3 linked regions of the Homo sapiens genome follow. The protein of the gene in region 2 interacts with the protein of the main gene of each other region in a biochemical or structural test. Each region holds a gene or a part of one and is shown on either strand. Other genes may lie near its edges.

What was found.
Region 1: the proteins of CGAS (region 2) and TRIM6 form a complex in vitro, tested with the Homo sapiens proteins (one study listed by BioGRID).
Region 3: of the proteins of CGAS (region 2) and RNF185, one has a biochemical effect on the other in vitro, tested with the Homo sapiens proteins (2 studies listed by BioGRID).

What each region holds. Positions count from the first base shown.
Region 1 is NC_000011.10:5,595,030-5,598,780, forward strand, and holds the start of TRIM6 (tripartite motif-containing protein 6), read left to right. Parts: upstream 1-1,607; 5' UTR 1,608-1,868; coding exon 1,869-1,885; intron 1,886-3,751. Other genes in the region: TRIM6-TRIM34 (tripartite motif-containing 6 and tripartite motif-containing 34), read left to right, coding at 1,869-1,885.
Region 2 is NC_000006.12:73,438,682-73,442,432, reverse strand, and holds part of CGAS (cyclic GMP-AMP synthase), read left to right. Parts: intron 1-1,987; coding exon 1,988-2,224; intron 2,225-3,751. UniProt on the Homo sapiens protein: Nucleotidyltransferase that catalyzes the formation of cyclic GMP-AMP (2',3'-cGAMP) from ATP and GTP and plays a key role in innate immunity.
Region 3 is NC_000022.11:31,163,145-31,166,895, forward strand, and holds part of RNF185 (E3 ubiquitin-protein ligase RNF185), read left to right. Parts: intron 1-3,751. UniProt on the Homo sapiens protein: E3 ubiquitin-protein ligase that regulates selective mitochondrial autophagy by mediating 'Lys-63'-linked polyubiquitination of BNIP1.

The sequences.
Region 1 (3,751 bases), on a different chromosome or scaffold from region 2:
AAATAGTGACACATGTCTGCACTTACGAGATTCCAATGACCTTTCATTTGCCTGGGGACTGTCCAGAGAAATCTCTTGATACTTAACCCAGCTCTCTCCCTACTGCCCAATCCTCCGTCCAGACTTTTGTATGGACACCCCAGTCCCTTCTCTCTCTATACCTCCCTCCCCAAGCCACCTTCTAAGGCAAGGTGATACTCACCTAATCAGTCTCCTTAGGGAGGAACTTTGACATTCTTTTTCTTCTCAGAGTTTCTGTGCTATTGAAACCCTGTAGTTAGAGTTCTGAGGCTCAATAAGCTTTACATGTATTCATCAGACCTAAATAAAAACAAAGATTGTCTTCTAGTTATATAGGTCAAAATTACAGATACACACACACAGCTTTATACATACATACGTGTAATTTTAAACTGATGAATTTTAATGATCGTTTGGCAAAACATGCCATTATGCAAAGGGGCTTTTACTCGTATAACTTTATATGTTTATTTAGACATTTTAATTAATACGTCTATATGGAGTACAGGTGTATTATCAGTGTAATTAAACTCTGATATGATATTAGAAAGCTACAGTACACTGCAGACAATTTACAAGGGTCATCTCTGGCCTGGTGTTCTCAAAGGCCTCCGGATTTGCCGTTCATCAGGTAAGATGAACAGCTTTGCGTTGCTACCTTCAAAAATTCTTTTTTTTTTTTTTTGAGAGAGAGTCTCGCTCTGTCTCCAGGCTGGAGTGCAACCTCCACCTCCCGGGTTCAAGCGATTCTCCTGCCTCAGCCTCCCGAGTAGCTAGGACCACAGGCGCGCCCAGCTAATTTCTGTATTTTTAGTAGAGACAGGGTTTCATCATGTTGGCCGGGATGGTCTCAATCTCCTGACCTCGTTATCCGCCCGCCTCGGCCTCCCAAAGTGCTGGGATTACAGGGGTGAACCACCGCGCCTGGCCTCAGAAACCATCTCCATCTCCCTTACCACCTGAGGGGTCACTGGTGACCACACCCATGGAATCGGCTGGATCTCCTGCGGGGCTGGACAATTTGACCCTCCTCCTCCCCAGGCCCCGCCCCTTCCCCCCTGAGTCTTTCGGCCTGGGTGGAGGACGCGGCTGCTTCAAGTCCTTGGCTCTGATCCAGGCCACAGATTCCAGGTTAGTGAGCAAGTTTATTTTCTGGCCAGCTACCGCTGTCCCCACTTGTCTGGAGAGTTTGACCCGCTCTGCAGGTCGGGTTGGGGGTGGTTCACGGGTGAAAGAAGAATGAGGGAGACTTCTGCATTTTCAAGTGAACTCAAGTTTGGGAAGGGAGCACAGAAGAGGCACCTTTGCAGCTGGGAATAGGCCGTGTAAAGAGAGTTAAACCTCTATTCTACAAGCTGAAGTATGTAGAGGAGGCAGCTCTGGAAACTGCTTTAGGGAATCACTGCAAACCATTTTGTCAGGCGTGGATTCAGAGTCAGCATCCCTTCCCCCCTTCCCCCGTTCTCCCCTTCCCCCCTTCCCCCTTCCCCCTTCCCCCTTCCCCCTTCCCCTCCCCCATCTCCAGCCTGGCCGCTCCAGGAAGTGAGCACCGTTTATCCCCCACCCCAGGCGGCCCGACTCCTCCCAGAAGGAGTTGGGAGATGAGCCTTCCGCAAACTCCTGACCTGTGGGTCCGTCCGTTCAACGGCCAAAGGCTGGCGGAGGAGGGATCCCCTGCCTTTCTCGGAACGGAACGGAGCAGAGTCGTGCGTGGTTGAGTTTAGATAAAAGCCGAGTGAGCGCGCTCTGTTCCTTAAGATTAGTTTAAGGTGCCTTGGATTGCTCTGAAGAGCTTTGACCACCTGATATTGCTTACATCTGGAACTTCTTGGCTTCTCATTCCCCAGATGTGCGGGTCAGAGAGGTATGTCTACCGTTCTGTTGACTGGCTCTTATTGTCACTTCTGGCAGAGGTGACAGGGCAGTGAAAGAGATAAGGTCCTTTCCCTTTCGGAACTCATTATATCTTTATTTCTTTTTCTTTCTCACTGCAAATGACCCCACTGAGGTTAGAGACATTTTAATCAGTCAGTCAATAGAGACAGAAATGTGTGGTTAGGAGCATAGATGCCGCAGCCAGACTGCATGTGTTCAAATCCTGACTCTGACAGACACTGGCTGTGTGCCCGAAGACTGTTAACTTGACTTCTTTGAGCTTTAGTTTCTTCCATCTATAAGATGGACGGAGTAATATGTATATCTTAGAGTTTTGGTGAGGATTGAGTGAGACAGATTTAAACACGTAGGAGGCTGCCTGACACAAATTATGGTCATTATTACTGGCAAACTCCATGCCTAGCTTTAAAAAAATGCACAATCAAAACAATTTTTAAATTATAGGTTTCTGAAATGCAGGGGGTAGAAATTCTTTTGAAGTGGAAATTAAATTTTTTGTTTTGAAACTGATTATGTTCCAATTCAAATATTTATTGAGTCCTGTTAGATAATCAATTGCAGATAATAGGTTAAATATAACCCTACACAAAGATAAAAAAAAATGTTATTCCTAAAGTGCAAGAACTCATGCCCAACTCACTTATAAATGCAACTGCCACCTATTTTATTCCACTTTCACTAGGGCTCCCAGCTGGTGGACGGGCCCGCTCTGTCATTCCTAACTCTGAACCCCCAGCCTACACCAGCCCCAGTATCCCCTGCTGAGTCACTGATTTTTATTCTGAAAGCCATTTTGATATCGATGCAAGCTTCCATTCTAAAAGATGCTTCGTATCTAAATAGCAGGCCATTCTCTGTCCCCCTCCCTCTTCTAGCTGTTTTGCACCCTAAATTGTATCCACCTGGGAAAGAAGGTCCTTTATCTAAGGCAGTGCTTCTGAAGCCTTAATGTGCGTAAGAATCACCTAGAGAACTTTAATATTAAAGTGCAGATTCTGAATCATTCCAGGAAAGACTGAGATTCTGCATAAAGAACTCCAAGTGCTTGCAGTGTTGCTAGTTAGCAGACCTTTTTCAGGCGTCTGGTTCTGATTTAATTGGTCCCACCTGGTTGTGAATTTGGGCTCTTTCTTCTGCTAATTTGATGCACTGGGCTCTGGGACTGCAGGCTCTTCTCGTCTGCACTCCTCACAGTCAGAATGCCTTCTCTCAGCCCGTCCACACTGCTCTGGAGACTTGGCCTCAGTTGGAAACTGGCAGCCTCCCATATCTCCCTTGGGCTGCACTTAGCTGCAGTGGGCAGTCAGGGCTTGCTGGTGTGTGGGCAAGGGTCACCTATGCTAACTGTATGCTCCCCTCCTTCACAATTTCTTTCCCAAGCCTCAGCTTTGACAAGAGACCTCAACTCTTACAAATCTTTTTTCTGCTCAAGAATTTTTCTCTGTCTAAAGAGAGTATTAGATGAATATCTACAGCGCATATTAGATAGGAAAAAGACATATAATGAACTAGAAATAGAATGAAGCCACATATGTAATGTTACATACTCAAGTAGCCTCATTAAAAATAAGCGGGTGAAATTAATTTTAATACATTTCATTTAACCCAATACATGCAAAATACAATTAGGACATGTGATCAACATAAAAAAATTAATAAGATCCTTTAACTTTTTTAAACTAAATCTTCAAAATCCAATGTGTATTTTGTACCTAAAGCAACCCATTTCTGAGTAGCCACACTTCAAATGCTCAAGAGCCATATCTGGCTACATGTTTGACAACACAGTTCCATTATGCTTAGAAGATCAGAAACCAAGCTTTTAATTTTTCTT
Region 2 (3,751 bases):
CGGGACCCTGTCTCAAAAAAAAAAAAAAGTTTGGGCTGGAAGGAAGCAGAAAGATGGGTGAGTATGGAGAGGAGGAAGATGTGGGGTGAAAGGAGAGGTATACCCTATAACCCTTTGTATGAATTTCAGAATAATCTAGCAGGGAGGGAGAGATGGCTGATGTAGGAGAGGAAATACTTGAAGAGCATGGTACTTGAGAAGTTGAGAAGGAAGGGATCCAGAGACTATGGGCAGAGGTGGCCTTTGAAAGGTAGATGGAGGGCCAGGCACAGTGGCTCACACTTGTAACCCTAGCACTTTGGGAGGCCAAGGTAGGCAGATCATTTGAGCTCAAGAGTTCAAGACCAGCCTGGCCAACATGGTGAAACCCTGTCTCTACTAAAAATACAAAAATTAGCCAGGTGTGGTGGTGCATGCCTGTAATCCCAGCGACTCAGGAGGTTGAGGCAGGAGAATCACTTGAAGCTGGGAGGTGGAGTTTGCAGTGAGCTGATATCACACCACTGCACTGCATCCAGCCTGGGCTACAGAGCAAGACTTTGTCTCAAAAAAAAGTAAGGTAGATGGACACTTACTTCCTCAGTGGTAACAGGAGAGGTGGCCAGGTTTGGGTAACAGGTGGCCAGGTTTGCAGATTTTTCTAGCATTTTCTCCTTTGTGCTCTACTTCGTCACTGTGGAAGTCTTATCTGACAGTAGTAGTCTTTACTGCTTATAAACCCCCAACTCCCAAAGCCATCTAAATTTCTGACCATAGCCACCCACCCAGCAGCCATCTCCACTTGAGTGTCCCACAGGTATCTAGAGCTCATTGTATCTCATGAAGTTCAGCTTGGCCCAATCTTTCTTCTTCCTGCTTATTCTATTTTGAGGAATGGAACCAACATCAGCCATTAGGCCTAGGAAGGCCAAGATCCTGGGATGGCATCCCAAGGCTCCTACTTTCCTCCTCACATCGTAGCCTCAACTCATGACCACTTATGTTGATTTGGACTTCTTTAGTTGCTCTCACTTCTTCCCCGTGTCTTGATGCTCACTACCTCTGTGCTGCCGTGGCACCCAGCCTCTGTGCCAGGCTGTTGCTGTGGTCTTTTTGCTGCCTGTCTCTTCCCTCTTGCCCATCTGGCCTCTCCTCTAGGCTTCCCTCCATTCTGCCATCTATAATTTGTAATGAAAATTTAACCAGGCACAGTGGCACATGCCTGTAATCCCAGCTACTCAGGAAGCTGAGGCAGGAGGATCAATTGAACCCGGGAGGCAGAAGTTGCAGTGAGCCGAGATCGTGCCACTGCACTCCAGCCTGGGCAACAAGACAATAAGAGTGAAACTCTGTCTCAAAAAAAAAAAAAAAGAAAAAGAAAAAGAAAAAAGAAAAGAAAAGAAAAGAAGAAAATTTAATCACAGCACTCTTAAACCTCAAAGTCTACAGAGACCCCTTCATCATATATGCCCCACACCATCTTGACAATGCCTCCCAATGGGAGATATCAGTAATTATTGTGTTTTTTGTTTTTTGTTTTTTTTTCTTTTTTGAGACAGAGTCTTAATCTGTCGCCCAGGCTGGAGTGCAGTCATGTGATCTCGGCTCACTGCAACCTCCGCCTCCTGGGTTCAAGTGATTCTCATGCCTCAGCCTCCCGAGTAGCTGGGATTACAGGCATTCGCCACCATGCCCGGCTAATTTTTGTATTTTTAGTAGAGATGGGGTTCCACCATGTTGGCCAGGCTGGTCTCGAACTCCTGACCTCAAGTGATCCACCTGTCTCGGCCTCCCAAAGTGCTGCGATTACAGGCATGAGCCATCATGCCCAGCCAATATTGGTTTAGTAAAATACTTTGCCTTTTAGAGCCAGTTTCTGTTTTACCACTAATGTTTACTTCATACTTAGCACACCAGAGATCTTCAATTATAGTTACATTATTTCCCCTGTATTTCCAGAGAAAATTGGATTAATAAATACTTTCTTTTCTTTTATATGTTCAACCAGATACAGATGTCATCATGAAGAGGAAAAGAGGAGGGAGCCCTGCTGTAACACTTCTTATTAGTGAAAAAATATCTGTGGATATAACCCTGGCTTTGGAATCAAAAAGTAGCTGGCCTGCTAGCACCCAAGAAGGCCTGCGCATTCAAAACTGGCTTTCAGCAAAAGTTAGGAAGCAACTACGACTAAAGCCATTTTACCTTGTACCCAAGCATGCAAAGGAAGGAAATGGTTTCCAAGGTATTTTAAATATTAAAGTTAACTTAAAGAAGTAAAAGAGTTGTTAATGTTATATGTTCAGGCAGTAAAAGATCAACAGCCAACCAATGCTGTTGTCATTTCAAGAGCCATCAGGCAAAATAGGTTATAAGATGGGAGTCTGGTGACAGACAGAATTGAAAAGGGCAAAGTTGTAGTATTAATATCAAATACTCAGCTTTAAAATGTCTAGCAATCCATATTTGAATTTTATTTTATTTTTTTCGGTAAAGAAAAGCAGTATTGGCCTTGGAGTCAGACTGCCCTGGTTCTGAATCCTGAGGCTCCTTCTACTAGTTGTGTGAATTCGAGCTAGTTATGATGCTTTCTAAACCCATTTGCTCATCCGTACACTGTGTTAACCAAAAGTACTTGAAAAATTCTGGAAAGATAAAATGTGCATGCAGTTCTGTGGCCAATTCTGTTCATGCCAGTTATACGTTATTACATATTAATATTATCATTAGAGTCTAGACTCTCATTCTCAGCCCTGGTTCTCTCTTTCCTTCATCTTCCCATTCCACTGCTCCTATGCAGCGTGTCTCAGCCTCACAGATCAGGACGGGTTTTCAGGCTGTGCTCTTGGGTAAAATTCAACTTCCAAGAAACAGACTGAGTTGGTCTACAGCTAAAACTTTATAATGGTGATATTTTTGAAGGTAGAAGGAAGTAACTTTTTTTTTTCTTTCTTTCTTTTTTTTTTTTTCCTGAGACAGAGTTTTGCTCTTGTTGCCCAGGCTGAAGTGCAGTGGCACAATCTCAGCTTGCTGCAACCTCTGCCTCCCGGGTTAAAGCGATTCTCCTGCCCCATCCTCCCGAGTAGCTGGGACTACAGGTGCCCGCTACCATGCCTGGCTAATTTTTTGTATTTTTAGTAGAGACGGGGTTTCACCATGTTGGCCAGGCTGGTCTCAAACTCCTGGGAAGTAGCTTTTTTCCTTGTGATTTAGTCTAAAAAAAAAAAGAAAGTAGCTGATTATTTTCATTTTCTCCCATAGATTTATATAGGACTTTTGGCACCTACTACTATTGGATTCCAGGGAAATTGAAGGAGACCATAAAACAAATGAACCAAGTTATAAATGAGTATTGCTGAAAAAAGCCCAGAAATAGTCAATCATGCTTAGTTTGATGGTTTGTGTTTTTGTGGACACACATCATAACTTCATATATTGCATACATAGAGGAATCATTTTCTGTAAGAAAAATAGTCTATGAAGGGTACTTACATATATCATTATTCATGTTTTTACAAAATGAATTATAGCTTTCTGCAAAGAGGTTGTTCTGCAAACTGAACAATTTTTAGAATAGCTGCCCCAGGAAACCCTCACTGTAAGTGATACAAAAATTGCAACAGGACCCCATACCATCTCTTGCTGACCCCATACTGTCCTGAGGAACACTGGAAGGTAAATCACCTTAGAGATGAAGAAGAGTCCTTTGGTGGCCCTGTGGCCTATGTGGTTAGGCAGTTCTTTTTTTTTTTTTTTTTTGAGACGGATTCTT
Region 3 (3,751 bases), on a different chromosome or scaffold from region 2:
GTGTTCATTTCAGTCACACCCATTTATTTATATTCATATATATTTACATATTGTCTTTGGGTGCTTTAATGCTACTCAGTGGAGTTGATTACTTCCCATAAAAACCATATGGTCCACAGAGTCTGAAGTATTTACTCTATGGCCCTTTATGGAAAAAAAATTGCCAATTCCTGACCTGCATCGTGTACATTTTTTTTTTTTGAGACAGTGACTCGCTCTGTTGCCCAGGCTGGAGTGCAGTGGCACGAACATAGCCTACTACAGCCTTGACCTCCTGGGCTGAAGCCATCTTCCCACCTCAGCCACCCGAGTAGTTGGGACTACGGGCACACACCACCACACCCAGCTAACTTTTAGGTTTCTTGTAGAGATGAGGTCTCACTATGTTGCCCAGGCTGGTCTCAAATCTCCGAGCTCAAATGATTCTCCTGCCTCAGCCTCTCAAAGTGCTAGGATTACAGGTATGAGCCACCACTCCCAGCCATGTATTGTTTTTTAACTTTTTATTTTATTTTATTTATTTATTTATTTATTTATTTATTTATTTGAAACGGAGTCTCACTCTGTCCTCCAGGCTGGAGTGCAGTGGCGCAATCTCGGCTCACTGTAACCTCCACCTCCCGGGCTCAAGCAATTCTCCTGCCTCAGCCTTCTGAGTAGCTGGGACTACAGGTGCACGCCACCTTGCCTGGCTAATTTTTGTATTTTTAGTGGAGACGGGGTTTCACCATGTTGGCCAGGATGGTCTCAATCTCCTGACCTCAAGTGATCCACCCACCTCAGCTTCCCAAAGTGCTGGGATTACAGGCTTGAGCCACCGTGCCTGGCCCCTTATTATTATTATTATTATTTTTTAGATGGAGTTTCACTCTTGTTGCCCAGGCTGGAATGCGGTGGGACAGTCTCAGCTCACTGCAACCTGTGCCTCCCAGGTTCAAGCGATTCTCCTGCCCCAGCCTCCCAAGTAGCTGGGATTACAGGCATGTGCCACCACACCTGGCCAATTTTTGTATTTTTAGTAGAGGTGGGTTTCACCGTGTTGGCCAGGCTGGTCCTGAACTCCTGACCTCAGGTGATCCACCCGCCTTGGCATCCCAAAGTGCTGGGATTACAGCCGTGAGCCACTGCGCCTGGCCTTTTTATTTTGAAATAATTTTACTCTTATACTAAACTTGCAAAAATAATTCACAAACTTTCTGTATATCTGTCATCTAACTTCACCTAATGTCAAAACTGTACATAATTATATCAGAATTATCCAAACAAGAAATTTAACATTAATACAATATTACTAGCTAATCTAGAGACTTTATTCAGATTTTGCTATTTGTCCCACTGTGTCCTTTTTCTGTTCCAGGACCCAATCCTGGATCCTACATCACATTTAGTTGTCAAGTCTCCCTGGTCTCATCAGATATCTGGGACAGTTCCTCATTGTCTTTTTTTTTTTTTTTTTTTTTTTGAGACGGAGTCTCACCCTGTCACCCAGGCTGGAATACAGTGGCATGATCTCAGCTAACTGCAACCCCCCTCCCGGGTTCAAGCGATTCTCCTGCCTCAGCCTCCTGAATAGCTGCAATTACAGGCGTGTGCCACCATGCCCAGCTGTTTTTTGTATTTTTAGTAGAGTGGGGTTTCACCATGTTGGGCAGGCTGGTCTTGAAGTCCCAACCTCAGGTGATCCACCTGCCTCGGCCTCCCAAAGTTCTGGGATTACAGGTGTGCCACCACACCCGGCCTGCATTTGCACTAAAATTTATTTTTTTTTTAATTGTTTGTTTTTGAGATGGAATTTCACTCTTATTGCCCAGGCTGGAGTGCAGTGGCGCAATCTTGGCTCACCGCAACATCTGCCTCCCAGGTTCAAGCGATTCTCCTACCTCAGCCTCCCGAGGAGCTAGGATTACAGGCATGCACCACCACGCCCGGCTAATTTTGTATTTTTTTTTTTTTAGTAGAGACAGGGTTGCTCTATGTTGGTCAAGCTGGTCTGGAACTCCCGGCCTCAGGTGATCTGTCTGCCTCAGCCTCCCAAAGTGCTGGGATTACAGGTGTGAGCCACTGCGCCTGGCCATTTGCACTAAAATTTATGAGGGTTCCAGTTTCTCCGCATCCACAACACTTGTTATTGCCCACTAAAAAAATTATATCTCTCCTAGTGGGTGTGAAGTGATATCTCATTGTGGTTTTGATTTGCATTTCCTTAATGGCTGATGATGATGATGATGATGTTCTTATTGGCCATCTGCATATCTTATTTGGAGAAATGTCTGTTTAGATCTTTTGCTCATTTTGTAATTGAGTTATTTGTTATCGTGTACAATTTTGAATGTAGGTATTCAAAGAGTTTGCAGATCTCTTGAAATAACTCAGTGATTTGACCTGCAAATTCTGAGGCAATGCCAGTATGTCCCTGATCTGAATGTAGTTGGATTTGGACATACTAAAGCACAAAGTAAATTTCCATTTGAGGCTACTGACCATGCAGAGCTTGACTCAAACCCAGCCACTTCTGGCCATGTGGAGTTGGAGTGGCCATGGGCAAGTGAAAGGAAGGGTACTATTTGCGTCCAGAAATGAGGTTGTCATCCAAGATATGATAAGACTAGTCAGGGAGCCTTCATTTTGGGTGCCACTCTGCTGTATGTCTGGTTATAGGCAGGGAGTAGAGGAGTCAGTGGTGGTTTGAATGCTCAGGACTAGCTGCTCATAGCTACATAACTACAGTGCTCCTAGGCCTATCTTGACCCTACAGCATTTGGCCATAACCAAACCATCTTGGACACATACCTTGAAACAAACAAAAGCTTCAGTAATGTAAATTGTGAAAGTAGTATGTGCTTATTTTATTATTATTTTTTTTTAGAGATGGAGTCTTGCTCTGTTGCCCAGGCTGGAGTGCAGTGGCACAGTGTTGACTCACTGCAGCCTCCATCTCCCAGATTCAAGCAATTCTCGTGCCTCAGTTCCTGAGTAGCTAGAATTACAGGCAAGTGCCACCATGCCCGACTAATTTTTGTATTTTTAGTAGAGATGGGGTTTCATGATCTTGGCCAGGCTGGTCTCGAACTCCTGACCTCAAGTGATCCGCCCACCTCAGCCTCCCAAAGTGCTGGGATTACAGGCATGAGCCACCATGCCCTGCCGATGTGCTCATTTTAGACATTTTGGGAAATACAGAAAAATCTCCCTCTCCCCACCCTAGTCATCCCTAGCTCTAGTATCTAGAGAACCTTTGTTGCAGTTGCTATATTTCCTTCTTGTTTCCTGCTACGGGGCACATTTTTAATAGTTGGAATCACTCACTGTACACAGGTCCATATCTTGCTTTTTCTTATTAACATCTAAAACTGAAGAAAACACACACTTTAATTTTAATGTCTCCATGTTTTTGCCAGCCTCTTCTATAAGCATTTCTTCTTCTTCTTCTTCTTCTTCCCCTTCCCCTTCCCCTTCCCTTCCCCTCCTCCTCCTCCTCCTTCTTCTTCTTCTTCTTCCTCTTCCTCTTCCTCTTCTTCTTCTCGAGACAGAGTCTGGCTCTGTTGCCCAGGCTGGAGTGCAATGGTGCGATCTTGGCTCACTGCAACCTCCACCTCCCGGGTTCAAATGATTCTCCTGCCTCAGCCTCCCGAGTAGCTGGGATTATAGGTGCCTGCCACCATGCCCAGCTAATTTTTGTATTTTTGGTAGAAACGGGATTTCACCATGCTGGCCAGGCTGGTCTCGAACTCCTGACCTCAGACGATCCACC